Homo sapiens: one gene and its partners. The protein of the gene in region 4 interacts with the protein of the main gene of each other region in a biochemical or structural test. Each region holds a gene or a part of one and is shown on either strand. Other genes may lie near its edges. The genes, in order: UBE2D1, SGK1, UBE2L3 and NEDD4L.

The links.
Region 1: the proteins of NEDD4L (region 4) and UBE2D1 form a complex in vitro, tested with the Homo sapiens proteins (7 studies listed by BioGRID).
Region 2: of the proteins of NEDD4L (region 4) and SGK1, one has a biochemical effect on the other in vitro, tested with the Homo sapiens proteins (5 studies listed by BioGRID).
Region 3: the proteins of NEDD4L (region 4) and UBE2L3 form a complex in vitro, tested with the Homo sapiens proteins (11 studies listed by BioGRID, with this or other methods).

The regions. Positions count from the first base shown.
Region 1 is NC_000010.11:58,366,006-58,371,248, forward strand, and holds the end of UBE2D1 (ubiquitin-conjugating enzyme E2 D1), read left to right. Parts: intron 1-1,917; coding exon 1,918-2,011; intron 2,012-2,714; coding exon 2,715-2,760; 3' UTR 2,761-4,743; downstream 4,744-5,243.
Region 2 is NC_000006.12:134,203,077-134,210,115, reverse strand, and holds part of SGK1 (serine/threonine-protein kinase Sgk1), read left to right. Parts: intron 1-2,684; coding exon 2,685-2,760; intron 2,761-3,601; exon of another isoform or gene 3,602-3,705; intron 3,706-7,039. UniProt on the Homo sapiens protein: Serine/threonine-protein kinase which is involved in the regulation of a wide variety of ion channels, membrane transporters, cellular enzymes, transcription factors, neuronal excitability, cell growth, proliferation, survival, migration and apoptosis.
Region 3 is NC_000022.11:21,591,702-21,598,740, forward strand, and holds part of UBE2L3 (ubiquitin-conjugating enzyme E2 L3), read left to right. Parts: intron 1-1,159; coding exon 1,160-1,255; intron 1,256-7,039. UniProt on the Homo sapiens protein: Ubiquitin-conjugating enzyme E2 that specifically acts with HECT-type and RBR family E3 ubiquitin-protein ligases.
Region 4 is NC_000018.10:58,039,239-58,047,227, reverse strand, and holds the start of NEDD4L (E3 ubiquitin-protein ligase NEDD4-like), read right to left. Parts: upstream 3,003-7,989; 5' UTR 2,568-3,002; coding exon 2,520-2,567; intron 1,572-2,519; exon of another isoform or gene 1,440-1,571; intron 1,295-1,439; exon of another isoform or gene 1,210-1,294; intron 3-1,209; exon of another isoform or gene 1-2. UniProt on the Homo sapiens protein: E3 ubiquitin-protein ligase that mediates the polyubiquitination of lysine and cysteine residues on target proteins and is thereby implicated in the regulation of various signaling pathways including autophagy, innate immunity or DNA repair.

The DNA of each region.
Region 1 (5,243 bases), on a different chromosome or scaffold from region 4:
TACAGTATTCATATAGATTCTCATATTCTTTTAAGAATCTTTCACACAGTGTAACTGTCATGCATTAGATATATGAAAGATTCTGTGTTGAAGGGTTAATTCAAGTTCATACGCTGTTTCCTGGAATGGTGTCACAAAATGGATCTCACTTGGCATATAAACTGCCAAGTCCTTATACATATAAAAGAAATGGCAAACTGCCAGATATTGAGTACTTATATTCTGACATTGGTAGCCTTTTATAAAGAATCAGTAGTGTTAGATTCTGGAAACCATCCTGTGAGAAATGAAACAGCCTCAGTTTCCTTATAAGTAAAATGGGGATTCTTATAGTGTTACCATACAGGGTTGCTATGTACCTAGCACATAGTGGGCACTTACATGAATGTTAACTGTTACCCTTTTCCTTACCTTAAAGGATAGACATGGTTTGTGTGCATGATAGTGAAACTGGGGCAAATGGCTCCTGGCAGTAGGGGTGAGCAGAGGAGGAACTTCCTTCTTGCTTACTTTTTTATAAGATAGATCATACCTTGCTCATTTGTTTGTATATTTTTTACTTTGCTATATTTTTTTAAATTTTTAATTTGTTTATCTTAAAAGATTGTTTTTTAATTAAATATAGACAGAGTCTTGCTGTGTTGCCCAGGCTGGTCTCAAACTCCTGGCCTCAAGTGATCCTCCTGCCTTGGTCTCCCAAAGTGCTGGGATTATAGGTGTGAGCAACCTTGCCCAGCTTATTATTTTTATTTTTTTATTTTTTGAGATGCAGTTGCTGTGTTGCCCAGGCTGGTCTCGAACTCCTAAGCTCAAGGATTCTTCCACCTCAGCCTCCCAAGTAGCTGGCATTATAGGCACATACCACCATTGCCTGGAGCTTTTCCATATTTTAAATGTCTTCTTTTGCTTTTTATCATGAGGTTAGTCTGGAAGCATTCTGGGGCTGTAAGTTAGCCCTGAAAATCTGCCCTGTTGGTTTAATATACAAGGCTTTTAAGTTTCATTGGGCAGATAGAAGATAAGAAAGATGAATAAAATACTAATTTTTTCTTTAGTTCATAACACCCCCCCACCCTTTGCCTGTCATTGTAAGAGTCAACTCTGCTCTATAAATCCACCTTTGGACTTGAAAGAGTACGAAAATAGAAAGGAAACGCAGTGGGGTGGGTGCAAGTGGAAATGGGAGGTTGGTCCAGAGGTTCCATGAACCTCCTCAGAAGTGGTGGCATGCAATTGAAGCAGACAAATGAGGAACCAGAGTCCTTGTTCCCTCTTATTTCAGATACTTAGATCGTTAGTGTGTGTGTGTGTGTGTGTTAGTGTAGCTATTTGCATTAGAATTTTGACATACTGGAGTAACAACTACTTTTTCAATTTTCATTTCTTTTTTAAAATATGCAAGCTATATAAAGATAGCTGTTCACATTATTTTTAAATGCATGCAATACAAATAAACTACATTAAGTAAAGATTCATTGAAAAAAATTTTACAAATTTTTCTTCTTTGTAGACAGACTATAGCTCTAAGCCAAAGCAAAAGAGTGTATGAGCACAGTATCCAAAATGGTTTGGACTGTTAACTGTAATTTGATTGTTCTGTAGAGAACTCTCAAGTTTAAAGGTTGTTAATAGCTACTTTGGAGGGTCACATTTTTTTAAATAAATGGGAACTCGGAATTTAAAACTTCAAAAGCTAAAATAATTTTATATTTTATGCATCCTATGGTAATTTTATAACTTTAAAAATTAAAGATCAATTTGCTATCAACCAAAGTAGAATAAAATATAATTTGATGTGTTCATTTTATGTTTTTTTTATAAGTACAGTATCTATATTCACTAAAATTATTTTCACATATGTAATTTGTATGAAGTAGAAGGGTTATTGTCTAATGTGATGTTCTCTTTTAAATCTAGTTTTATTGTCCATATGTTCTCTACTTTGTGATCCTAATCCAGATGACCCCTTAGTACCAGATATTGCACAAATCTATAAATCAGACAAAGAAAAGTAAGTGTTTACTTATTTTAGTTTCTGTATGGATACATTCCTATATAGTATGCCAAAACACGAATATTATCAATATGTTTTAAGTCAATTTGATTATGGTTGTTATATGTATATTGTTTATCTTTTTCCAATGGAGTAAACCTTTCTTTGAGAACTCTGTTAGACCTTTTATGATAAATCTTGTTCCTTCCCACTTACTGTTCAATAGTATATACTCTGTATTTGAAAAATAGATGTATATATTCTAGGTGATAAATTAAAAATGAAAGAATTTAATCATTGGAAAGTATTAAATATATATTGCTTATCTTCTCCAAGGAAGAGGAGTTCTCTCGTACCCATCCAAACTGACCTAATTCTCAAGCTGCTTCATCTTGCTAGTACTGTAGGTTCATTTGCAATTTGTAGATAATGCTCCTTCAGGATTGGCTTTTGTAAATTTCTGTTAGAAGCTGGTTTCTGCATTTTGATTTTTGTGTATTTGGATACATTTTCATATAGGTTGCAGAGAAATCCATGAGTTAAAAAATTATTTTTCCTGTTTTATTTCTGCATGAACCTAAGTCACATTGACCCAGTAATTGATATATGTGTGATTATTGCAATTAAGTATAAGAAGGTAGAATATATAGTTTTATTAGACAGATGCTTCTGAAATATTAATTTTGTATGTTTTTACTATATCCTTTTTGTGTATCTACAGATACAACAGACATGCAAGAGAATGGACTCAGAAATATGCAATGTAAAAATCAAAAACATTTTCATATATACCAGAGTACTGTAAAATCTAGGTTTTTTTCAACATTAGCAGTAAATTGAGCACTGTTTACTGTTTCATTGTACCATGAAACCATTTGATTTTTACCCATTTTAAATGTGTTTCTGAAGCAAGACAAAACAAACTTCCAAAAATACCCTTAAGACTGTGATGAGAGCATTTATCATTTTGTATGCATTGAGAAAGACATTTATTATGGTTTTTAAGATACTTGGACATCTGCATCTTCAGCTTACAAGATCTACAATGCAGCTGAAAAGCAACCAAATTATTTTTTGCTGAAACTAGATGTTTTTACATGAGAAATACTGTATGTGTTGTCTAAGATGTCAGTTTTATAAATCTGTATTCAGATTTCATTCTTTGTTAGCTCACTTTATAATTTGTATTTTTTTACTGTATAGACTAAATATATTCTATTTACATGTATGTCAACTCATTACTTTTTTCCTGTGAACAGTATTGAAAAACCCCAACGGCTGATAATTAAGTGAATTAACTGTGTCTCCCTTGTCTTAGGATATTCTGTAGATTGATTGCAGATTTCTTAAATCTGAAATGATCTTTACACTGTAATTCTCAGCATACTGATTATGGAGAAACACTTGTTTTGATTTTGTTATACTTGACTTAACTTTATTGCAATGTGAATTAATTGCACTGCTAAGTAGGAAGATGTGTAACTTTTATTTGTTGCTATTCACATTTGAATTTTTTCCTGTATAGGCAATATTATATTGACACCTTTTACAGATCTTACTGTAGCTTTTTCCATATAAATAAAATGCTTTTTCTACTATTTGTCTTGATTACTTAAAAAAATAAAAATATAAGTAAGGATCAAAACTCTAAAATTTTGCATGAAAATTACATCCAAATTGTGAAAATCAGATCTATTTTGTTTGCCATTAGTCACCATTAGTTATATAAATTTTATTGTTTTAGGTTAGTATCTCTTTACTAAATTGTCAGTCTATAAGATAATATATGTTGATCCCTTGCTGTAGAGGAGAATTTAGAGTAATTTGGGGTTTGTCTTGGATTATATCTAAATGGATTATTTGTTAAAAGTACTGAAATGAGTATAAGGCAGTATCACCCATCCAAAAGAAAGGTCTTTATAGACCTGCACAGTCACTAGATTAATTCATTAAAATGCCCCCACCCTGATGTAATTGACATTACATTTCTTAACATTTTAAAATCTAGAATTTCTAAAATGGAATTTAATGCCATCACAATTTGAAAAACTTTTTTTTTTTTTTTACTATAGAAGTTACAAAGGAAGTTCTAAAATTATGCCTCCCTCTGTTTTTATAAGTTGCCATCGAAAAGTGATTTAAATAAGCAGGTTATCTTTATAGATTTTAAAGAAAACTAGAAAGTTTTAATGTTTTAACTTGGGGAAAAATACATCTCTTTAATGTTTAGCATGCTTGTCAACCTTGAGTGAGTGTCATTTTTAAGAACAGTTGTAGCCCTTCTGATTATTGCAGTAGCTGTAGAAGTATGTAAGAATATGTGATGGGTGTAGTCATTAGCAAAGCATTTAAATCACTTGAGTATTTTGTCATGGTTCATTATTATTAAAGCACAAAATAACCTATTGTTAGAAAATATGTGTTTTTATAAATGAATGTAAAATAATTAAATGAATTGTGAAATGGATGTTTAAGAAAATATAGGCTTAAAAAGTAAATCTATAAAATGATGTCTTAAAACAGCCATATCATGAAAAATTCTACTTAGCTATATTATTATAAGCTACATTTGCCCTGAATTTGAACACTCAACATCACTAGATTTAAATATTTAGTATATTTTGATAGTAAAGGGTTTTGTTTCTTGAATATCTTCACTTTAAACAAAAAAAAAAAACAACTTTCATTTGTGTGGCATTTATTTTTGGAAGTGTCTTCTTTTTTTTCTTTATTAAAGTTTTTGAAACTTGCCTAACTTGTTTGCCTTTGCTTACATCTGGATTGTACTGGACTTGAGGAGTAAGCAGAAGTTCTCATAATTAGCTAAAAACCTTGAGTTCCATAGTGGCGTCATGATCGGTCAGAACACCATTTTGGGTATATTATTTTTGCTTAACTCTAACAAGGAGAACATCAGTTACCTTTTAAAACTGTAGAATAAAAGTCAGGGCCTTTTGTGGATTAAGCATTAATTTAAGGACTTCCTTGGAGTGAGAGAAATAGGTAGTCTTTTGGGGATTTAGGATCCCACTTCTTGAAGTTGCATAGTTGAAAACCATGTTCAAATTGGATTCTGAACGCTTATAACTGCCATATACAGCAGTTACCCACATCAGTGACATGGGTTGTAAGGGGCAGCCTCACCACCATCCTCCAACTATCTCAAAAGCGTACAATTCCTGAAGTACAAGCTTTACATATATGCCTCCGTCAACCTTATTTATTAATTTTTGCATTATTTCCCTGTTTC
Region 2 (7,039 bases), on a different chromosome or scaffold from region 4:
GAACATGGAAGTGAAAATACCTCTTTGAGATCCCAATTTCTCTGATTTCCACATATTCTTTGATACTGGTCCACAAGAGAAGGAGCTTGTACCAGATGGTAAATTCATGCACTGCTTCCTTCGTCAATAGAGCTTCACAGGCCTGGCACGGTGGCTCATGCCTGTAATCCCAGCACTTTGGGAGGCCAATGTGGGCGGATTACCTGAGGTCAGAAGTTCAAGACCAGTCTGACCAACATGGCAAAACCCCATCTCTACTAAAAATACAAAAATTAGCCAGGCGTGGTGGAGCACGTCTGTAATCCCAGCTACTATTGAGGCTGAAGCAGGAGAATCACTTGAACCCAGGAGGCAGAGGTTGCAGTGAGCCGAGATGACACCATTGCACTCTAGCCTGGGCAACAAAGCGAGACTCCATCTCAACAAAGAAAAACAAAAGCCTTGTTATAAAGAGAAAATGTCGGTGAAACTAAACAATGACCTTAGTGTCATTCTTGAGTATTTTGATTATTGTTGCAATGGAAGGAATTTATCCACTAAGTAGTTGATGAAACTATAGAATATTTGCAGTAATCAAATGATCACATTACAAAATATATATAAATGGAAAAGCAGTTTTAACACTAAGATCTATATTTAACTTCATGAGAATATATTTGATTGTTTGTTTGTTTGTTTTTTTGAGACAGAGGCTCGCTTTGTCGTCCAGGCTAGAGTGCAGTGGCACGATCTCAGCTCACTGCGGCCTCTGCCTCCCGGGTTCAAGCGATTCTCCTGCCTCAGGTTCCTGAGTAGCTGGGATTACAGGCATGCGCTGCCATGCCTGACTAATTTTTGTATTTTTAGTAGAGACGGGATTTCAGCATGTTGGCCAGGTTGGTCTCGAACTCCTGACCTCAGCTGATCCGCCCGCCTCGGCCTCCCAAAGTGCTGGGATTACAGGGGTGAGCCACCACGCCTGGCCTGAGAATATATTTGAAAGCTAATATCACAGTAGTATAAAGCTGTCAAAAACATGGATCACTGCTGCTCTGTGGAACTTGTTATATGAAATCTATTAATTGTATCTGAGTACAACCACTATGGAAAACAGTATGCAGATTCCTTAAAGAACTAAAAGTAGATTTACCATTTGACCCAGCAATTCCACTACTGTGTATCTATCGAGAGGAAAAGAAATCATATACGAAAAAAACACGTGTGTGTGTATATATATATACACACACATACATGTATGTATATGCATATATACACATACATGTATGCGTATGCATACACACATACATATATATACATGCGTGTATGTGTGTATATGTATGTGTGTGTGTATATCTATATATACACATATATATGTGTATATATATATATACGCATACATGGAATACTACCCAGCCAAAAAAGAACAAAATAATAGCATTTGCAGCAACCTGGATGGAATTGGAGACCATTATTCTAAGTGAAGTAACTCAGGAATGGAAAACCAAATATCATATGTTCTCACTCATAAGTGGGAGCTAAGCCATGAGGACGCAAAGGCATAAAGAGGATACAATGGACTCTGGGGACTCAAGGGGAAGGGTGACAGTGGGGCAAGAGATAAAAGACTACACACTGGGTACAGTGTACACTGCTTGGGTGTTGGGTGCACCAAAATCTCGGAGATTACCACTAAAGAACTTATCCATGTAACCATACACCATCTGTTCCCCAAAAATCTATTGAAATTTTTTTAAAAATGAAAAAATACCTGACAGAAAATGCTCAATAAATATTATTTATCATTAAAAACATGTATCTGCACTAAGAAGAGCCTCTAAGTGGACTAAATAATACATATTGCATATGTACATGTGCTGCTATTTGAGAATATAAAGATCCTGTTATGATTATAAAATAAGAATGCAGGCCAGGTGCGGTGGTTCACGCTTATAATCCCAGCACTTTGAGAGGCCGAGGTGGGCGGATCATTTGAGGTCAGGAGTTCGAGACCAGCCTGGGCAACATGGTGAAACCCCGTCTCTGCTAAAAATGCAAAAATTAGCCAGGCGTGGTGGCACACGCCTATAATCCCAGCTACTCAGGAGGCTGAGGCAGGAGAATCGCTTGAACCCAGGAGGCAGAAGTTGCAGTGAGCTGAGATTGCACCACTGCACTCCAACCTGAGCAACAGAATAAGACTGTCTCAAACAAACAAAAAAAGCATTTAAAGTGCTACTGAATTAAAAGTAGCTTTTAATTAATATGTATTTTCCCAAGCAATATGTACTAAAAGTATCATTTCTGTTATGTGGAGATTCAAACACTTTTTATGTATTGAGTGTCTACACTGATAAATTTGCTAATAATCCAGGGCCTCTTCATACGGCTGTGCAGTTTGTGCACTGCACATAGCACTGGGTGAGCTCCAGCGCCCATGTGCTAACCCAGCCATCAGCCCAGTGAAACTGCTTCATGTGTAAGGGGACCAACTGTCCCGGTTTGCCCAGGACTAAAAGGCTTCCCAGGATATGGGACTTTCAGTGCTATACCCAGCACGGTCCTGAGAAAACCACCCTAATTAGAGCACAGACATGCCATATGTACTAGTTTCAGCCTTGGAATCCTTTCTCTAGAACTATAAGCCTAAAATAGCTGAAATGATGAAGCCATTTTTATATCACTTCTTTTCTCTTTATGTTTTAAAGGTGAGAGAGCCATGTAATCATGCCAACATCCTGACCAAGCCCGATCCAAGAACCTTCTGGACTAATGATGATCCAGGTATTATTGGAAAAATACAACCTGTTTCCTGTTATGTACAGGATACATTCTGTAGTAAAGCTCTACACAAAGGCAAGGTTTGGGGGGAAATATTTTTTTGTTTGTTTGTTTTTTGTTTTTTGTTTTTCTTGAGACAGAGTCTTGCTCTGTTGCCCAGGTTGGAGGGCAGTGGCGCAATCTCAGCTCACTGCAAGCTCCGCCTCCCAGGTTCACGCCATTCTCCTGCCTCAGCCTCCCGAGTAGCTGGGACTGTAGGCGCCCGCCACCATGCCCAGCTAATTTTTTTGTATTTTTAGTAGAGATGGTGTTTCACCGTGTCAGCCAGGATGGTCTCGATCTCCTGACCTTGTGATTCGCCCGCCTCGGCCTCCCAAAGTGCTGGGATTACAGGCGTGAGCCACCGCGCCCGGCCTTGTTTATTTATTCTTACCTAACCCAACACTCGAATACACTGCAATTAATTTTTTTTTTGTTTTTTTTTTTTTTCTGGAGACGGAGTCTTGCTCTGTCGCCCAGGCTGGAGTGCGGTGGTACGATCTCGGCTCACTGCAACCTCCACCTCCAGGGTTCAAGCGATTCTCCTGCTTCAGCCCCCCAAGTAGCTGGGACTACAGGCATGAGCCACCATGCCTGGATAATTTTTGTATTTTTAATGGAGACAGGGTTTCACCATGTTAGCCAGGCTGGTCTCGAACTCCTGACCTCAGGCAATCTGCTGAGCTCGGCTTCCCAAAGTGCTAGGATTACAGGTGTGAGCCACCATACCTAGCCTTGCAATCAATTTTACCCTAAAAGTCCTTTTGTTATGTCTTCTTTTCAGTATCTAAAACGTATATACTAGATCCCTTTGTCGTTTATAAGTGTGATGATTGGGTTTTCATGTTCCTGTGTGAGATATGCCTCCTTCAAGCCTTGTTATGATGTCTGCACATTACCTGCCTGTCATTTAAAAAAAAAAAAAAAAAAAAAAAATATATATATATATATATATATATATATATATATATATATATATATCATCAGGTACAGCTTTGTGGATTGTGAAGCATATTTAAGTGTTGGGAGGAATGAGGAATGAGTCTATTTGCTGGAGTAGAAGACAGAGGAGTTGAATAAAGTGGGCAAACACATGAGTCCAAGTTTGTTTTCTAGGGCAAGGAAGAGATTTGAAAACCTAGGGTGAATCATACTTCAGAATACTTATGGGAGGGCATGTATACTTGCACTATGATATTAGGGCTGTACATCTAATCAGAATCAGAAGAATGCCACTTTATGAGATCGGAGAATATGCTTCAGGTTATATGATTAGAAATTACGCTTAGACAAAGAGTAGGGTATGTTCTCATAGCAAATAGAAGACATTTAAAAATTCTTTTTCACAAACACACATGAGCCGTGAGGCCTAATTGCACAAAGTAGACACTAGAAATAAAAGGGAAGGTGAAGCAAAAAGGAGCTAAAACAATTAAGAGAGTGATAATAGAGCTTTCACCTTTTCTAATGAAATAGGTCTAATGAAATAGAAAACTCACGCTGATATCTGATATTTGTATTATGCCTCACGCTTTTACAAGGAGTATTCACAGAAATCTAATGTAGTGTTTGCCGCAATCCCTTGAAATAGGAGAGACAGCCCTTTCCTTGTTATGCCTCTATTAGAAATGAAATAATAAGCTGAATAGGTTAGCTGACATATCCAAAGCTCGCAGCCAGAAAATACCAAGGCTAGGAGAATGGAGAGTGGACTGCCCAGTTCTATAGCACGCTTCTTAGGAAGAAGCAGCTCTCCTAGCAGAAACAGCTTGGGCTAAATCTGTGCTATAATCTGTTCTTCATAAAAGGGAGTCAGAGGCTGTGCCTATTAGCAGAAACAGGAGGACTTGAGAAGGAAAGTGAGAAACTTTCTGATGGCTTTTTTTTTTTTCAAAGACCAGACTTACGGTCTAAACATTATCAATTTCATCTGTCAAAAAATTGTTTTCTGTCTTGTTTTATTATATCTTTTGAAGAAAGAAGAAAAAACATAAAAGTGAATTAGCCTATTTATGCCATCATTTCAGTCCATCAGCAGTATACCACCACAATAAACAAGCCATCTGCTGGCTAATACTGCTAGTAAGATCTACAGCACATGTGTTATGAAGAAGCAATGTAGAATGAAACATTACCAAAGGAACATAAATGATTCTTGATGTTATGTAAAGAAAATGGAAAGGGAGGGAAATCTGTACAGGACAGGTCTAGAAAATGGTGCTTGACCAGCAGCCCTCAGGACTGCTCTATCTGTGAAGCAGCTATTCTTTATTCCTTTACTTTCTTAATAAACTTGCTTTCACTGAAAGAGAGAAAGAGAGAAACAGAGAAAGAAAGAAAGAAAGAAAAAGAAAGAAAGAAAGAAAAGGAGGGAGGGAGGGAAGGAAGGAAGGAAGAAAGAAAAGAAAGAAAGAAAAAGAAAATGTTGCTTGGACAATTTTTGAAGCCTAAATAAATTATGTTACGGGCTGGGTGTGGTGGCTCATGCCTGCAATCCCAGCACTTTGGGGGGCCAAGGTGGGTGGATCACCTGAGGTCAGGAGTTAGAGACCAGCCTGGCCAACATGGTGAAACCCCTTCTCTACTAAAAATACACAAATTAGCCGGGAGGTGTGGCACGTGCCTGTAATCCCAGCTACTTGGGAGACTGAGGCGGGAGAATCACTTGAACCCAGGAAGCAGAGGTTGCAGTAAGCCAAGATTGTGCCATTGCATTCCAGCCTGGGCAAAAAGAGTGAAATTCCATCTCAAAAAAAAAAAAAAAAGTTACAAGAAAAACTAATGCAGAACACATAGAGAAATAGGAATAGAAATATTTCAGACTTACTCTTTTTTTTTTTTTTTTTTCCTGAGATGGAGTCTTGCTCTGTCGCCCAGGCTGGAGTGCAGTGGTGCAATAGACATACTCATTTTTAAAACGTTTTTATTACTTTTCCTTCATCAGTAGTGTTACAAAGAATGGAGTGTCCCTCCTACAAGAGCTCATCTCATGAAGATCCTTCCCAGTCACCAACTTAACCAACTCATAAAGTAGGATCTATGTCTAGAGTAATTATTTATTTATTTATTTATTTATTTATTTATTTATTTATTTATTTTTTGCCTAGTTGGTCAGTCCATTACTAAGAGTGTTTTAAAATCTCCACCTCTAGTGGTAGAATTGTCTTTTGGTTCTTTTAATTCAGTCAATTTTTGCTTTATGTATTTTGAACCTCTGTTATTAGGCACATATACTTTTTTTTTTTTTTCTGAGGTGGAGTTTTGCTCTTGTTGCCCAGGCTGGAGTGCAATGGCATGATCTCGGCTCGGCTCACTGCAACCTCTGCCTCCTGGGTTCAAGCAATTCTCCTGCCTCAGCCTCCTGAGTAACTGGGATTACAGGCACATGCCATCACTCCCAGCTAATTCTTGTATTTTTAGTAGAGACGGGGTTTTGCCACGTTGTTCAGGCTGGTCTCTAACTCCTGACCTCAGGTGATCCACCCACCTCAGCCTCCCAAAGTGCTGGGATTACAGGCATGAGCCACCGTGCCCAACCACACACACATCTTTATGATTATTATTATTTCCTAATGAACTGATCATTTTATCATTAGGAAATTTCCTTCTTTATCTCTGGTAAAAGTCTTTGTTTTAAGTCTATTTCTTCTGATAGATACAGCCAGTCCAATCTTCTAAAGCCTACTTTTCACATGGCATATTTTTCTTTCCATTTTCTTTCAACCTGTGTCTTATAGTTAAGGTGCTTATCTTATAGACATCATGTGGTTAGATTTTCCTCTTAAAATCCTATCTAATGATCTCTGTTTTTTTTACTTGTGATGTTTAGCCCCTTTATACTTAATGTAATGACACAGTTAGATTTAACTTTACTGTTTTGCTATTTGTTTTCTATATGTCCCTTCTCTTCTTTGTTTGCTTATTCTTCCTTTCCTGACTTCTCTAGGATTATTTGAATAGGTTTTAGAATTTAATATTAATTTACCTGTTGACTTTCTAGTTATCCTCTTTGCATCACATTTTCAGTGGTGCTCTGAAGATTACAATAAATGACTTTATTTTTATTTTTATTTTTTTGAGACAGAGTCTCACTCTGTTGCCCAGGCTGGGGTGCAGTGGCACAATCTTGGCTCTCTGTGACCTCCACCTTCTGGGTTCAAGTAATTCTCCTGTCTCAGCCTCCCAGGTAGTGGGATTACAGGCACGTGCCACCACGCCTGGCTAATTTTTGTATTTTTAGTAG
Region 3 (7,039 bases), on a different chromosome or scaffold from region 4:
CACTGTGAGTTGAAGTACCACGTAAGGAGGTTCTGGAGGGTGCTGGAGCTGGGCCAGAGGAAGCAGCCTGGCGAAGGAGGCAGGGCTCAGCTGGATGGTGCTCGGGCTGCAGAAGAGAAGGTGCCTGACAGGTGTGGAGGCGGCTTTTGTGCCACTGGATGGGAGGCCGGGCTGAGGCGGGTAGAGTGGCACTTCATGTGTCAGAGTGGAGGAATGTTGGCGAGGCTGGTGTTCTGGCAGGAGGGCATTGCTGGGTGGTTTGGGTTATAGCGCCTGCCAGGCATTCACTGAGATGTTGGAGGCAATGGGAAATGTCAGGCTGGTGCACAGTTGAAAAACAGGTGACAGACAGTTCTGAAGACATCTCAGGCAGGACCCTGAAGTCGTAAAGTTGTGCTTTCTGGGTGAAATGGCACTTGCTGCATTGACTGTTTATACAACAATAACCCCACATATTTGCAAGGGGTCCTGTTGCCCACAACATGGCTTCCCTTTCCTTTTCTGCACTCTGGGTCTGTTTTGCAGCTGAGGAAACAGGCTCAGTGAAGGTTTCCCGTCCCCACCCCCCCACTCCCACCCCAGTCCCAGACTGGATGGTTCTCTTTGCTGTGTGCCCATGTTGAGGTGGAGTCCTTCTGAAATCACACTTATAGCACTGGGTAGAAAACTGGATATGCGTTTGTGTCTGGTTTGTTCCCAGTCCCCAGTTTTATTCATCTTTAGCTTCTCAGCATCCGGTGCATAATCAGTGCTTAATGAATCTTGATTGGAAGGTATCAGGTGTAGAGCACCTCAGGATAGCTCCTGCCACATGTCTGCCCTATGCAGGGTGCTGAGGGATTTAAACAGCCATGGTGACCAACCCAAAGAGGAGGTGGTACGTCTGCAGAAGCATGGTTCCCCCTGTCCTATTCAGGGGGGTTCACTGAGGTGGGGGCTTGTCTTGGTCTGGGGCATGGGGAGAGGCAACAACCTTGCAGAGGGGACCGCCATGGCAGCTCCATGCCTCCTTAACCACTCCAAGCACAGTTTAGTCCTCACTGTCCAATTTTGTCATTAGCATTTTTGGCACTTGGTTTAATTTGAGGGCATCAGGAGGGATCTTAATATGTGGTGCTTTCCCCTATTTGACACCCCTTTATGCTTTGTCAATCAACAGGAGCTTGAAGAAATCCGCAAATGTGGGATGAAAAACTTCCGTAACATCCAGGTTGATGAAGCTAATTTATTGACTTGGCAAGGGCTTATTGTTCCTGTGAGTATTGAACACTTCCACTTCCTACCAGATTATTCTTTAAGGTGATGTGTGTGCTGTTGGGCTTGTTTTTCTGCTCCTTAGTAGGCTCTTAGTCTAGGCAGCCAGCAGATGCACAGAAGTGGCTGTCGCTCTAGGGTGATAAGGTAGGGAGTGTAGCCTTGGGTCCTGAGTAGAGTCACATCTTGGCACTCGTTTTGTCAAATTCAGGGAGTCCTGAGCTTTGCAGATCTGTAGACACAGAGAAAAGGAGTGTGTCTGTGCTCCTGCTCTTTCCTGACTTCCCTGCGCCTGGCCTGATGGATCAGCAGGACCTTCTTCTCTGAGCTCCTCAGGAGGGGACAAGCATTCCCCTCTAGATATTTTGCTTTCTCTCTTGGTTTTGCATTCATGTCTCTAACCCTTTGGATACCTGTATTTCGGGCTTTATTCCTGGTCCCCTCCAACCTGTGCCTTCCATTTGTCTCAAGTCCCTTTTCCTAATTGCCCACATGTTCCCCTCACCCCATGTCTTTTCTGGGGCTTATGCCTCCAGTGTCTGCCCCCACAGCCCAGCTCCCCCATCTCACAGTCTTCTGCCTTCTGATGGGCTCAAGGCCCTCCTAACGATGGCTTTCCTTAGCACCCTCTTAGTGCCTACTCTTTTCTGCATCCTTTGATCCCCTCCCCTTCAAGAGGCTTGTCTTATAATTAACTCCAGTTTGCAATCCCCCTTCCTCTCACTCTCCTGAAACCACGTCACACCCAGCCCACAGGCTGCCCCCACTGTTGTCACACCTCTAGCTCGGCAGTGCTGGCATCATGGCCCTTGCTTGCCTCCTGAGCTTTTGGAGCACGGGCAGCATTCCAGCCCCCAGTCCTGTGACCAGCCTGCCACTCGCTCCTGTTCTGCCACTCCTTCCTCCTCACTCTTAAACATGACTCTTGTTGGTCTCCTGCTGTTCTCCTGTTCTGTTTTGTCTCGGGACCCTACTACTTTCGGCATCATAGATGATTATGCCAGACATGAAGGATTCCCACACCTGTCTCCATTCCTGCCTTCTCCCCGGAAGCTGCACCATCTGTCCACCAGGCGGCCTCACTTGGTCATTGTGTAGCCTTCAGCTACCTCAGCTCACACCCTTGTCCTGCGTGAGTGCCCTCCTTTCCTGTTCTTCCTCATCCACTCACCTTCTCTGTTCCTTTTCATTCCCACTTTGCACATCTGAGCCTCTGGCCCTTGCCCTGTGCCTGCCGCTGTCCTGTATATAATTTGTTCTCATGGATGGATTGGCTGCTTTGCCAAAGCAGAGCATGGAGCATGCTTCCTCCTGTAGATGCTTCTTCCTGATGCTGGTTATAAGGTCATGAGCATGGAGCATGCTTCCTCCTGTAGATGCTTCCTCCTGTAGATGATTTCTCCCTGTAGATGCTTTCTTCCTGATGCTGGTTATAAGGTGAGCATGGAGCATGCTTCCTCCTGTAGATGCTTTCTTCTTGATGCTGGTTATAAGGTGAGCATGGAGCATGCTCCCTCCTGTAGATGCTTTCTTCTTGATGCTGGTTATAAGGTCATGCTTTTTTTTTTTTAAGTCCCTGAATTTGATCAGCAGTTATTGGATTTGTAGTTTATTTCCATAATCATTTGGATAACTAAGGAAAGATATGCTTTGTAATGATTTAGTATGCTCAGAATGTTTAAATCTGGGAGCTTCCAGTCTGATTTTGAAGATGAGTCCTTTAGATTTCTTTAGGCTTGATGGTGTTAGGGCTCAGGGCAAAGGGTGTGGGTGGCAGAGACACCTCTGCATGGGAGGGGTTGGCCTGTGAGTGCAGCCCTTGCCTACTCTAGGGACCTGAAGATGGCCGGGACCATCTGACCTCTTGTCCCTTTTCTAATTGAGATTGTGTAGTCTACTGAGCAAAGAAATGAACAGTTAATCTGTGGCTCTTTGGAAAATGATAAAAATGAATGGAATGGTTTTAAGTGGTAAGGCTTGGGCAGTCTGGCCCTGAGAATTTAGTGGCCTGAGAGCCTGCTAGCCAGCTCCACGGGTAGATTGCTGCTGGGCATGCTCTGCCCCAACTCATGCAAAGGCCTCCCTCTGGTTTCACGCTGGCAGGGGCTATGGAGCAGTGGGCTAAGATCTTACTAGGGCAAAGGTGGAGGCTGGCTGGTAGAATCCAAGTGTGCTTGGGCTGAGGCTCTGGGGAGCTATCCAGGCCAAAGTTTCACCTTGGAGACGGTAAGCAACAGCCAGGGCTGCTCTTGTCCCTGTGTATACCACTTCTTCTCGGTCCTCTCCCTTGCTTTCTTCCAGGGCCCCTGGGTTTGTATGAGGAATGTTTCAATGAAGTCTTCTTCCTTCTCCAGAGCAGTTAAGGCATTGTTGACATCTGACATCCCCAGGGTCCACACTTGTACCCCAACCTGGGCTTTAGGTCTTCCTGCATTGGACGGGCTGGGCCAGCATGGGAATCTACTATACAAACTCACCTGAGGTCTGCCCAGTTGGGGTAAAAGTAGAGCCAGGCCGATGAAGGCATGGCAGCCCAGCCCTGGTCCTTAGTGGAGAGTGGTGCTGTCCTTGGGTAGCCACCTAGCGATTGCCCTGGTCGTAGTGCACAGAGGAGGGCAGGTGGGAGGGAAGGCTGGGGAGGTACTTCCTAGAGACTTCATTGTTGCCAACGCAACTCTGGTCTATTCCCTTTAAACATTTGTTTTTCTGTAATTTTTTTTCATCTAAGATGCTAAGGTAACGTCTAAGGAAGAAAATATTACCCATAATCACATCATCAAGAAATTCAGTTACATTTTGTGTACTGCCCTTTAGGAACTAGAGGTGTGGTAGTCACCCTTCTTGAAGCTTCTAGCCCAGTGAATGTGTTTACTCTTAACCTTCAGCATACTTCCTCTCAGCCTTTTTTCATGCAGTTTCTTTTTTTTCTTTTTAATTGAGTTGGAGTCTCGCTCTGTCGCTATGCAGTGGCACGATCTCGGCTCACTGCAACCTCCGCCTCCCGGGTTCAAGCGATTCTCCTGCCTCAGCCTCCCAAGTAGCTGGGACTACAGGTGCGCACCACCACACCCCGCTAATTTTTGTATTTTTAGTAAAGACGGGGTTTCACCATGTTGGCCAGGATGGTCTCAGTCTCTTGACCTTGTGATCCACCCTCCTCAGTCTCCCAAAGTGCTGGGATTACAAGCGTGAGCCACCACGCTGGCCTTCATGCAGTTTTTAATAAACCATTTCATAACTTCATAATAATGTTTTGGTTTTTTGAGGCAGGGTTTTGTGCTGTCACCCAGGCTAGGGTGCAGTGGTGTGATCATGGCCCATTGCAGCCTTGAATTTCTGGGCTCAAGCAATCCTCCTGAGTAGCCAGGACTACAGGTGTGTGCCACCACACCCAGCCAATTTCTTTTTATTTTATTCCATTTTATTTTATTTTTTGAGACAGTCTTACTCTGTCACCCAGGCTGGAGTGCAATGGTGTGATTTTGGTTCACTGCAACCTCAGCCTCCTGGGTTCAAGTGATGCTTATACATCAGCCTCCCGAGTAGCTGGGATTGCAGGTGTGCACCACCATGCCCAGCTAATTTTTGTTCTTGTTTTTGAGACAGAGCCTTGCTCTGTTGCCCAGGCTGGGGAGTGCAGTTATGCGATCTCGGCTCTCTGCAACCTCCATCTCCCGGGTTCAAGCAATTTTGGCTAATTTTTGTACTTTTAGTAGAGACTGGGTTTCTCCATGTTGGTCAGGCTGGTCTCGAACTCCCGACCTCAGGTGATCCACCCATCTCAGCCTCTCAAAGTGCTGGGATTATAGGCATAAGCCATTGCGCCCATCCTGTAACGTCTTAAATTTCCACTACAAAGGTTCCAGTTCATCCACATCCTTGCTAACATTTGTTATTTTACTTTTTTTTTGTTTTTACGTTACAGCCATTCTAGTTGGTATGTAGTGCTGTCTCATTGTGGTTTTGATTTCTGTTTTCTTCATACTAAGGATGTAGAACATGTTTTTGCATGGTGTGTTTTTTGTTTTTTTGTTTCTTTTTGAGACAGGGTCTCACTCTGTTGCCCAGGCCAGAATGCAGAAGCACAGTCTCGTCTCACTGCAACCTCTGCCTCCCGGGTTCAAGTGATTCTCCCACCTCAGCCTCCCGAGTAGCTGGGACTATAGGCGTGCACCACCACACCTGGCTAATTTTTGTATTTTTTGGTAGAGACAGGGTTTTACCATGTTGGCCAGGCTGGTCTCGAACTCCTGACCTCAAGTGATCTGTCCGCCTCAGCCTACCAAAGTGCTGGGATTACAGGCTTGAGCCACCGTGCCTGGCCTGATGCACTAAAGTTTTAAATTTTTTAATTTAATTTTTATTTTTAGAGAAGGGGTCTTGCTCTGTCATCCAGGCTGGAGTGCAGTGGCTCAATAATGGCTCTCTGCAGCCCCAGACTCCTGGGCTCAAGCAGTCTTCCCAAGTAGCTGGCACTATAGGCACATGCTGCAACCCCCAGCTAATTTTAATTATTTTTTCTGTAGAGATGGAGTCTTGCTGTGTTGCCCAGGCTAGTCTTGAACTCCCAGGCTCAAGTGGTCCTCCTGGCTTAGCCTCTGAAAGCTCTGGGATTTACAGATGTGAGCCATCACACCTGGCCTTAAATTTTTAATAAAGAAGTCCAATTTATCTATTTTTAATTTTGTTGCCTATACTTTGGTTTGATTTTTAAGACACTGTTGCCAAATCCAAGGTCATGCAAATTTTCCTGAGTTTTCTTCTAAGAGTTTTATAGTTTTAGCTCTTAAATTTGGATCTTTGATCCATTTATATGTAGATTTTTTTTTTTTTTTTTTTTTTTTTTTTTTTTGAGACAGGCTCTCGTTCTGTTGCCCAGGCTGGAGTACAGTGGCATGATCATGGCTCACCACAGCCTCAACCTCCCAGGCTCAAGCGATCCTCCCACCTCAGCCTCCAGAGTAGCTGGTACTGAAGGCATGAGCCACCACGCCCAGCTAATTTTTGTATTTTTTTTTTTTTTTTTGTAGAGATGGGGTTTTGCCATATTGCACAGGCTGGTCTTGAACTCCTAGACTCAAGTGATCCGCCTGCCTTAGCCTCCCAAAGTGCTGGGATTACACCACTATGCCCTGCCTCATTTCTTATTTTAATAATATGAGTCTTTTCTCTTTTTCCTTTTATCAGTCTAGCTAAAGTTTTTTCAATTTTGTTGATCTCTTCAAGGAAGGTTTCATTAATGTGTGTGTGTGTGTTTTTCATTTATCTCCTCTGTGCTTACTATTTACTTCTTTCTTGTGTTATTACTTTCTTTGTTCCTTAAAATATCCAGTTAGATTATTGATTTCAGACTTGCTTTTTCAATGTAGGTATTTAAAGCTGTAGATTCCCTTTGAGCACTACTTTTGCTGCATAACTTAAGTTTTGGTATGTCATTTTTTTTTCTGAGGATATTTTCTAATTTCCCTTGTGATTTCTTCTTTGACCCATTGCTTGTTAGAGAGTACGTTTAATTTCCCCATAATTGTGAGTTTTCTAGTTCTGTTATTGATTTCTAGTTCCCTTTCCTTCTCCCTTTCCCTTTCCTTTTTTTTTTTTTTTTTTAAATAAATAGAGATGGGGGCTGGGTGCAGTGGCTCACACCTATATTCCCAGCATGTTGGGAGGCTGGGGTGGAAGGATCGATTGAGCCTAGGAGTTCAAAACCAGCTTGGGCAATATAGCAGGACCCCGTCTCTATTTTATTAAAATAATAATAATAATAAATGGGTTCTCCCTGTGTTGC
Region 4 (7,989 bases):
ATATCTTCATATGTGATATTCTGCAGCACACCAAGTCTGCAAACTAAGTGTACCCATATTTAATACGCCTTGGAAGAACAACCCTGCCGTTTGCTTCAGCGGGCATTCTACTTTCAGAGCCTGCTAAAATCTTCCATTGGTTTTTCTTACACATACTAATTCAGGGAGACAAAACAAGCTGTGCAAATTCAACAATTTGTCGTTAATATTCTACGAAGGCATTCCCTGATTCTCTGAAGGGCAACGTGACAGCATGAAACTGCCCATGAAAAACAAATACCAATGAAATGTGAAGTCATCAGAACTGCCCTGGCTTATTTTTTCACTGGTAGGAGAAAGTTGAAAAAGGAAGACGGCTGAGACTCATCTTGTGAAATACAATGTGTGTGGAACTAAATACTACCAGCGACATGGCAATAAATAGATAATAAAAGGTGTCTTCATCACCTCTTGCTATTTCCTATACAGCCCCAAATTCCCTTCTAGCAACATGCAGGAGTGAATCCAGTCACATGCCAACACACACTCGGACTCTGTTTACATTCCAAGCTTCACTTTCACACTAGACATCAGTTATGATGATTAGTAGTGACTCCTGTGGACAAAAGTGGCAAGATGTGCTCTAGGTAGATTCTGACACTCACTGCCAATGTAAATAAAGCACAAACAACAGTGACATTAACGTGTTTCATTTATCCAGCTGCACTTCCCAAAACACTCTTAAAATCGTTTTTTCGGGGGAGTTTTTACAAATAATCATGTTATTAAAACATTTTTTAAAAGAACCTAGGATGAAATGCAGCTGTCCTCACCCCCACCCCCCACAATACGTCAACCCAAGCAGCCCCTTTGTTTAGGAATGTCTGCGTCTCTGCAACTCAGGGCCTGCCCTCTACTGCCACTAATTAAATGGAGAAGTAGAGGATGCAAGGGAAAGCTCCTCAAAGAGAGAAGCCAGGAGGGAGAGGAGAAGCCCCCCGGGTCAATGAAACAATGCTACTGTCACCTATCCCCAGGTAGTTACACAAAACGGGAAATTATTTTACAAAAGCACAGCGAGGCAAAATAAACACACAAATCACACATTATTTGCACTGTGATCATTCTTTGATCAAATAAATACATCAAGCTTTGCCTAGCACCGCTAAGAAAAAAATTCATACCCTAAACACCCTTCCCACCCCAAAATACCTTTCATTCCACACTTACGTAGCACACAGGCACACACACACACCATGCCAGGGTAGGAGAGCCGCAGAAAGCGGAGCCATAACGCGAGCCTGTCTCAGATAATAGCCTTTCTTCCAACCCCACCCCCAACACGAGAGAAAGAGGGAACCTCTGAAAAGAAAGGAGGGAGGGGAAGAAAGAGAAATCGAGAACGCCTGAATTTCCAGGCATCAACTTTTCATGAAATGCACAACCAGGATAGGAAATACCTCCCTGCTGAGTAATGCTTCTTGGGTTGTAAAATTCACCTCTCGAAAGGGGAGCCAGACCTGAGCGCGCACCCCGCCAGATGGCAAACCACTCCTACCTGCTCCATCCAGCCTGCCTGTCACGCCGCGCCCGCGACAAGCGTCCCACCCCCCTTTTTGGCAGAGCAACATACCAATAAGAGCCGAGCGTGGCTGGTCGAGAGAGGACTAGGCAGTGATTTAGCAGGATTGTTTCAAAAGGGGGGAGTGGGAGACACGGAAGAGAGAATGAAGGTAAAAACAAAGCCCTTTCCAGTGAAACCGACCGCCTGGGAGGCGTGGCTTATTCAGTCGCTTTATTAATAAAAGAGATCAATTAAGCTTTCCTCTCCCCACCCACCCTGGAGGTGCCGGGCTTTGAATCCTCGGGAGGAAAAAATGGCAGGGCTGCAAGCTTCCTCCCCAAGTTTCCAGGAGCACCTGCCACCAGCCTTGAACACCTCCCCCACCGAGGCTCCGAAATCCACAATCCTGGCCGTAGACTTTGCAAAACGAGGGGAGGGACACACGCAGCGTGTCCCCCATTCCCGCCGGGATAAGCACGCACAGGCTTCTGAGCGCCTGCTGATCCACACAATCATGAGAGAGAAAGTTCCAGGGGGAAACGATCCGGCTTCTCCGCAGTCCCGGGTCTCCAGCCGCGCGACCCAGACGTGACATGCATCATGGACTCCCGGGCTGCAGGGGCGAGAGGCGGAAAGTTGCCCAACAGCCCCGGGAGACGCTGCTTGGAGAGGAAGAGGGAAGAGAGGCACGCATGCCCCCTCCCTCTCCTCCCGAAAGCGAGGAGCTGCGGAGTGAACCCCCAGCTCCAAGGGCGTCGCGCCGCTTTATTTACAAACAATGAGCTCGGCTTGCGGAGGGTGGGGGGTGCGGAAGGACCCAAGCTCCCCTGGATCCCGCTCCGGGGCGCTCCCGCTTTGGGGCTCCCCTGCAGACGCTGGGCACGAGCACCCCGGGGACGGCCCCTTTCCCCTCCCCCTGCCGGCGCGGGATAGGAACTCCCCGGGGAGTCCCGAGCAGGAAGGGGGTGCCACTCACCTCGTCTTCGGAAAGTCCATAGACCGGCTCCCCGAGCCCGGTCGCCATGGAGCCGGCGCCCCGCGCGGGGTCTGAGGCGCTCCCAGCGGCTGTGCTGCGGCGCGGACGGCCGGTTCTCCCCTCTGCCTCCAGGTCCCCCCGGTCCCGCACCCTACCCTGCGCACGCCCTGCCGGGTAAGCGGCCGGGCGCCGGCAGGTGAGGGTGCCCGAGAGCGCGCCCTGGACGCTGCCGGCACCGCTTCCTCCCGGAAGGCTGCGGGACCAGCGGGCGGGCGGCTCCCGAGAGCGCGCCGAGCACCGGGCGGCAGCCCCGGCGCCTCTCACTGCGCGCGGCGGCGGCGCAGACCCGGCCGGGCTTTCCCTCCCCGCGACCCGCGCCTCCCTCCCGCCCCGCCGCTCTCCGCCCCCCTCCGAGCCTCCTCTGCGCTCCCGGGGACCCGGCTCGCCCGCCTCCTCGCTAGCGCCGTCCGGGCCCCCGCTCTCTCCGCCCCCTCCTCCGCCTCCTCCCACCGGCGCCGCGAGGGTACCCTCCCCGTTCGCCGGGGCGGGCACACGCGCCCCCCAAGCCAATCACAGGCCGGGCTGGCGAGCGGGCCGCGGGCTGCGGGGGTGGCGGAGTTCAGCCCCACGCCCACCCCGGCCCGGGGCCTCCAGCGCGGCGCGGCGGGGGTCACCCGGCCGCGGGGCGGATCCGCAGGGGCGTGTACTGGCGCGCTTGGCCGGCGCCGCCGACCCTCCCTCCTCTCCCGGTTTCCCTCCGCTTTAGGGAGGGGGCGGGCTGGACGTTTGGGGGCGATAGAGGATTTTGCGAACAATAACAAAAACGCCCTGAGCGTTTCTTCCTCCCGGTGGTCTTTTTACCGAGAGCCCTGAGCTCGCTGTTAACTGTGAAAAGGGGAAAAGATGGATGTTTCTAGACCCCTTTAAATTCTTTGCGGCCCCGACGAGCAGGACTTGGCTACATTGTCAGCTCCCGGGAGCGAGCCGCCCGGCCCGGCTGCCAGCCGAGGAGAGGCTGCCCCAGTGTGGCCGCAAGTCGCCATTGCCTGTGTCAACCTTGCAGGGAACAAAACCAACATAGCGCCCGCCCCGGTTACACACCCACCCACGCGAAAACAGACAGCATGGTTCTTTGAATAAAAAGCAGTTCATTTGTGAGCCGCAACGTGAAATATCAAACTCAAGCTTAAGGTTATCCTTTGCATATGCAAATGATCGAGACGTCTTATTAGCCACCGTAGGATTCTTCCCACCACCCAGCTACCGTTTCTCTAGCAAGCAGTTCATTTAATCCTTCCGATTTATAGGACTGCAAGAGACTACTTTAAATAAGTGAAAGAAATTCGTCAGTCGACTTTTTCGGAAGCCTTTCCTTAAATTTAGATGTTAAGTGCAGTTGGGAGTTCAAAAAGAAAACAGACGCAGAACATTCCATTTGCCTTTGAAAAGGAAACGTCAAAGTGCCTACTTGGGTATTACCAGGATGCATTTAGGATTTTCATTCAAGGAAGTTCAGAGAGAACTCGCGTGACCCGAAGGAATCATATTCCTCGTTGCCAGCTACATAACTAAATATCTGCTGTTCGCCCTGCTAGTTCGTTTTCAAAAGAGCCCACCCATGCTACCTTAAGCTCTCCTTTGCCTTCCTGCAGCATGACTGGCTTAAAACCTGTGCCGTAGAATGGGTTTCCTTTGACGACTTAGCCCCATGGAGTCAACATCCTACTCAGAAGCCTTCTCTAGAAGTCTTGAGCCGTCAAGTCCACAGTACTTACAGGCCACAAAACCCCCAATGAGAACTATTTATGGAGGACTATTTAAAAGTCAGATTTCTGTCCATTCTTTCAATACTGAGGTTTTTCAACCCTTTCAAACCTCGAGTCTTTAGACCGGGCACGGTGGCTCAAACCTGTAATCCCAGCACTTTGGGAGGCTGAGGCGGGCGGATCATAAGATCGGTAGTTCAAGACCAGCTGGCCAATGTGGTGAAACTCCATCTCTACTAAAAATACAAAAATTACCCAGGCGTGGTGGCGGGCGCCTGTAATCCCAGCTACTCGGGGAGGCTGAGGCATGAGGATCCCTTGAACCTGGGAGGCGGAGGTTGCAGTGAGCCGAGACTGCGCCACTGCACTCCAGCCTGGACCACAGAGCGAGACTCCGTCTCAAAAAAAACAAAAACAAAAAAAAACAACCCTAAAGTCTTTTGATAAACAAAAGGTACACGTGCACACTCTGTCTTTCTCTCTCTCTCTCTCACACACACACACACACACACACACGCATTCTCAGATGCCCTTGCCCTAGCCTGTGACCCTCATGGATGGGAGTCAGTGCTTCTCTACCTACCCTCACTAGCCAAACCTTTGTAAAATTTGTACAGTTTATATTATAAAGGAAGAAAAGTAATTGAATAATAATGCTAGCATTTTGGGAGGCAGAGGCAGGAGGATCATTTGAGGCCAGGAGTTCGAGACCAGCCTGGGCAATATAGAGAGACCCCTGTCCCTACAAAAAAAAAAAAAAATTAAAAATTTGCCAGGTGTGGTGGCATGGGCCCATAGTCCTAGCTACTCAGGAGGCTAAGACTAGAGGTTCACTTGAGCCCAGAAGTTCAAGGTTACAGTGAGCTATGATCGTGCCATTGCACTCCAGCCTGGATGACAGAGAAAGACCCTGTGTCTCTAAATAAATAAATACATAAATAAATAATTCTTAAAATGTGCTGATAGAAAATTATAATTTCTAATTACACAGGACACGCCTTCCACATCCTGGAGGTACACAATTCCAGGCTTCGCCTTTGGGTAAGGCTATGTTATCTGGAAACTGTAGAGGGGTGTGGCAGTTTCTCTTCCTGTCTTTTATCATCTACTCCCACACACCCACCGCAACAGCCTATAGCCCTGCACTCAGGGTCATGTCCTTGTCTTTCCCTGAGGGATGGTTATTAGGAACTATAATATGAAACTTGCCATATGTCACTTATTGTGGGGTGTTTATAAAATCGTGATCCATGACATCAACATCCTCTGTGAGAAGACTAATAAACTAGACATTTATTTCAGATCTATGAAGAAAAGCTCTTTTGCTTTCAAGAAACTGGTAAGCTTTTGCATGGCAGATGACCAAAATTATTAAAACCGACTGTGTTTTTCTATCTACTTTGGCCACCAGGAAGCTCAGAACCAGTTTCATGGTCTTAAGCCATAAAAGAACCCATTAAAAAAAATCCCTTTTGTAACTATATACCAACTTTCCCCCAGTGCTGTGGTTCTCTACTCAGCATGTACATTGCAATCACCTGGGGAGCTTTCAAATAGACTAAGTGCCCGGTAACCAGCATCAGAGGCTATGATTTAATGGATTCTGACATCAGTAGTTTCAACAGCCTCCCAGGTGATGCTAATGTGCATTTAAGGCTGAGAACATCAGCTTAGTTTCCAAATTTTGCTATACATAGAAACATTTGGGAATTTTTACTACTGCTCCTCTCTGCCTCCCACTCCCAGGCGTTATGATTTAATTAGTACAGGGTGCCACATGGGCATCAGGAGCTTTAAAAGTTCCCCAGGTGATCCTAATGCACCACTGCCAAGTTTAGAGACATCTGGCCTAGATTTATATTACTATTCTTTTTTTTTTTCTTTTTCTTTTCCTTTTCCCCGAGAGACAAGTTCTTGCTCTGTTGTCCAGACTGGAGAACAGTGGCATGATCACAGCACACTGTACCCTCAAACTCCAGGACTCAAGTGATCCTCCCACCTCAGCCTCCCAAGTAGCTGGGACTACAGGAGCACACCATTGTACCGGCTAAGGTTTTTTGTTTTTTGTAGAGATGGGGTCTCCCTTGCCCAGGCTGGTCTCGAATTCTAGGCTTCAAGTGATCCTCCCACCTTGGCCTCCCAAAGTGTTAGGATTACAGGCATGAGCTACTGAGCCCAGCCTATATGCCTTTTCTTTATATATTTTCCACCACTCTGTTTTTTCATTCGTTTTTTTTCAACTTAGAGGAAATTGCATGTTATAAACACACTCAAATCTTTTGTGGAGTGAGGTAGAATATAAACAAACATACTTAGAAGACTAGCATCATCAATCAGTTTACCCATCATCTACTCTGAAGTCTCAGATTAGTAATCCAATTTCTTTTCTTTCTTTCTTTTTTTTTTTTTTTTTTTTTGAGATGGAGTCTCGCTCTGCTGCCCAGGCTGGAGTGCAGTGGCGTGATCTCGGCTCACTGCAAGCTCCGCCTCCTGGGTTCACGGCATTCTCCTGCCTCAGCCTCCCAAGCAGCTGGGACTACAGGCGCCCGCCACCACGCCCGGCTAATTTTTTGTATTTTTAGTAGAGACGGGGTTTCACCTTGTTAGTCAGGATGGTCTCGATCTCCTGACCTCGTGATCCACCTGCCTCGGCCTCCCAAAGTGCTGGGATTACAGACATGAGCCACCTAGCCCAACCTAGTAATCCAATTTCTTTGGGGGTGAGGGAGGACAACCCTTAAAGGGAACTATTCAGCAGGTGTATCAAAAGCAATGTTTCCTCCAGTCCGTTTTGCATCTACCCAACAATTACATAGAACCTTAACTTGTAGAGTCTCCTCTAGAATTCGTTTCCCTTTGTTCCCTTTGCAGGCTGCCTTTAGCATCTTAGATTTGATACTGTGGGTGTTTGGCAAATACTCTTCACTTGGATCATCAGAAATGAAAAATTAGCAGGAACAATTTTAAAGTACAATGGGTAATCACAAATAGGGAACATTTTAATGCTAAGCCTCTTTACAAATTATTGAGTTGTCTTAGCAAAACTATGTAGATCATAATCACATCTGGGAAGTACCCAAAGAAGAAGAATACATAATGTCACATGTTTAAGTTTCATATAAATAACACTCGATTTTTCTCTTCAATTTTCAGTGATGATTTGTCTTCTTTAAAAAGAAGGCCTATTAAGCAGACATTTCGAAGATGGCCACAAACCTGTAAAAACTGGTATCATCTTGGAACTCAGCACCATTCCTTGACACACAGAAATGTAACAAATTTAAGCCGTTTATGATCATATAAGAAATCTATATTATGCTTCAAATTTTTGACAAATATAGAGGTGGGTAGCAAAGAATGACTTGTAAATAGCTCATCTTTTTGTATAAAAATAGCTACATTAGGCCATTCTTGCAATGCTATTAATGAAGAAATGCCTGAGGCCAAGCACAGTGGCTCACACCTGTAATCCCAACACTTTGGGAGGCTGAAGTGGACAGATCCCTTGAGTCCAGGAGTTCGAGACCAGCTGGGCAACAAAGTGAGACCTCATCTCTAAAAACAAAAAATACAAGAATTCGCTGGGCCTGGTGGCTTGCGCCTGTAGTCTCAGCTACTCAAGGAGCTGAGGCAGGAGGGTCCCTTGAGCCTGGGAGGTTGAGGCTGAGGTGTGCCGAGATCACACCACTGCACTCCAGTCTGGG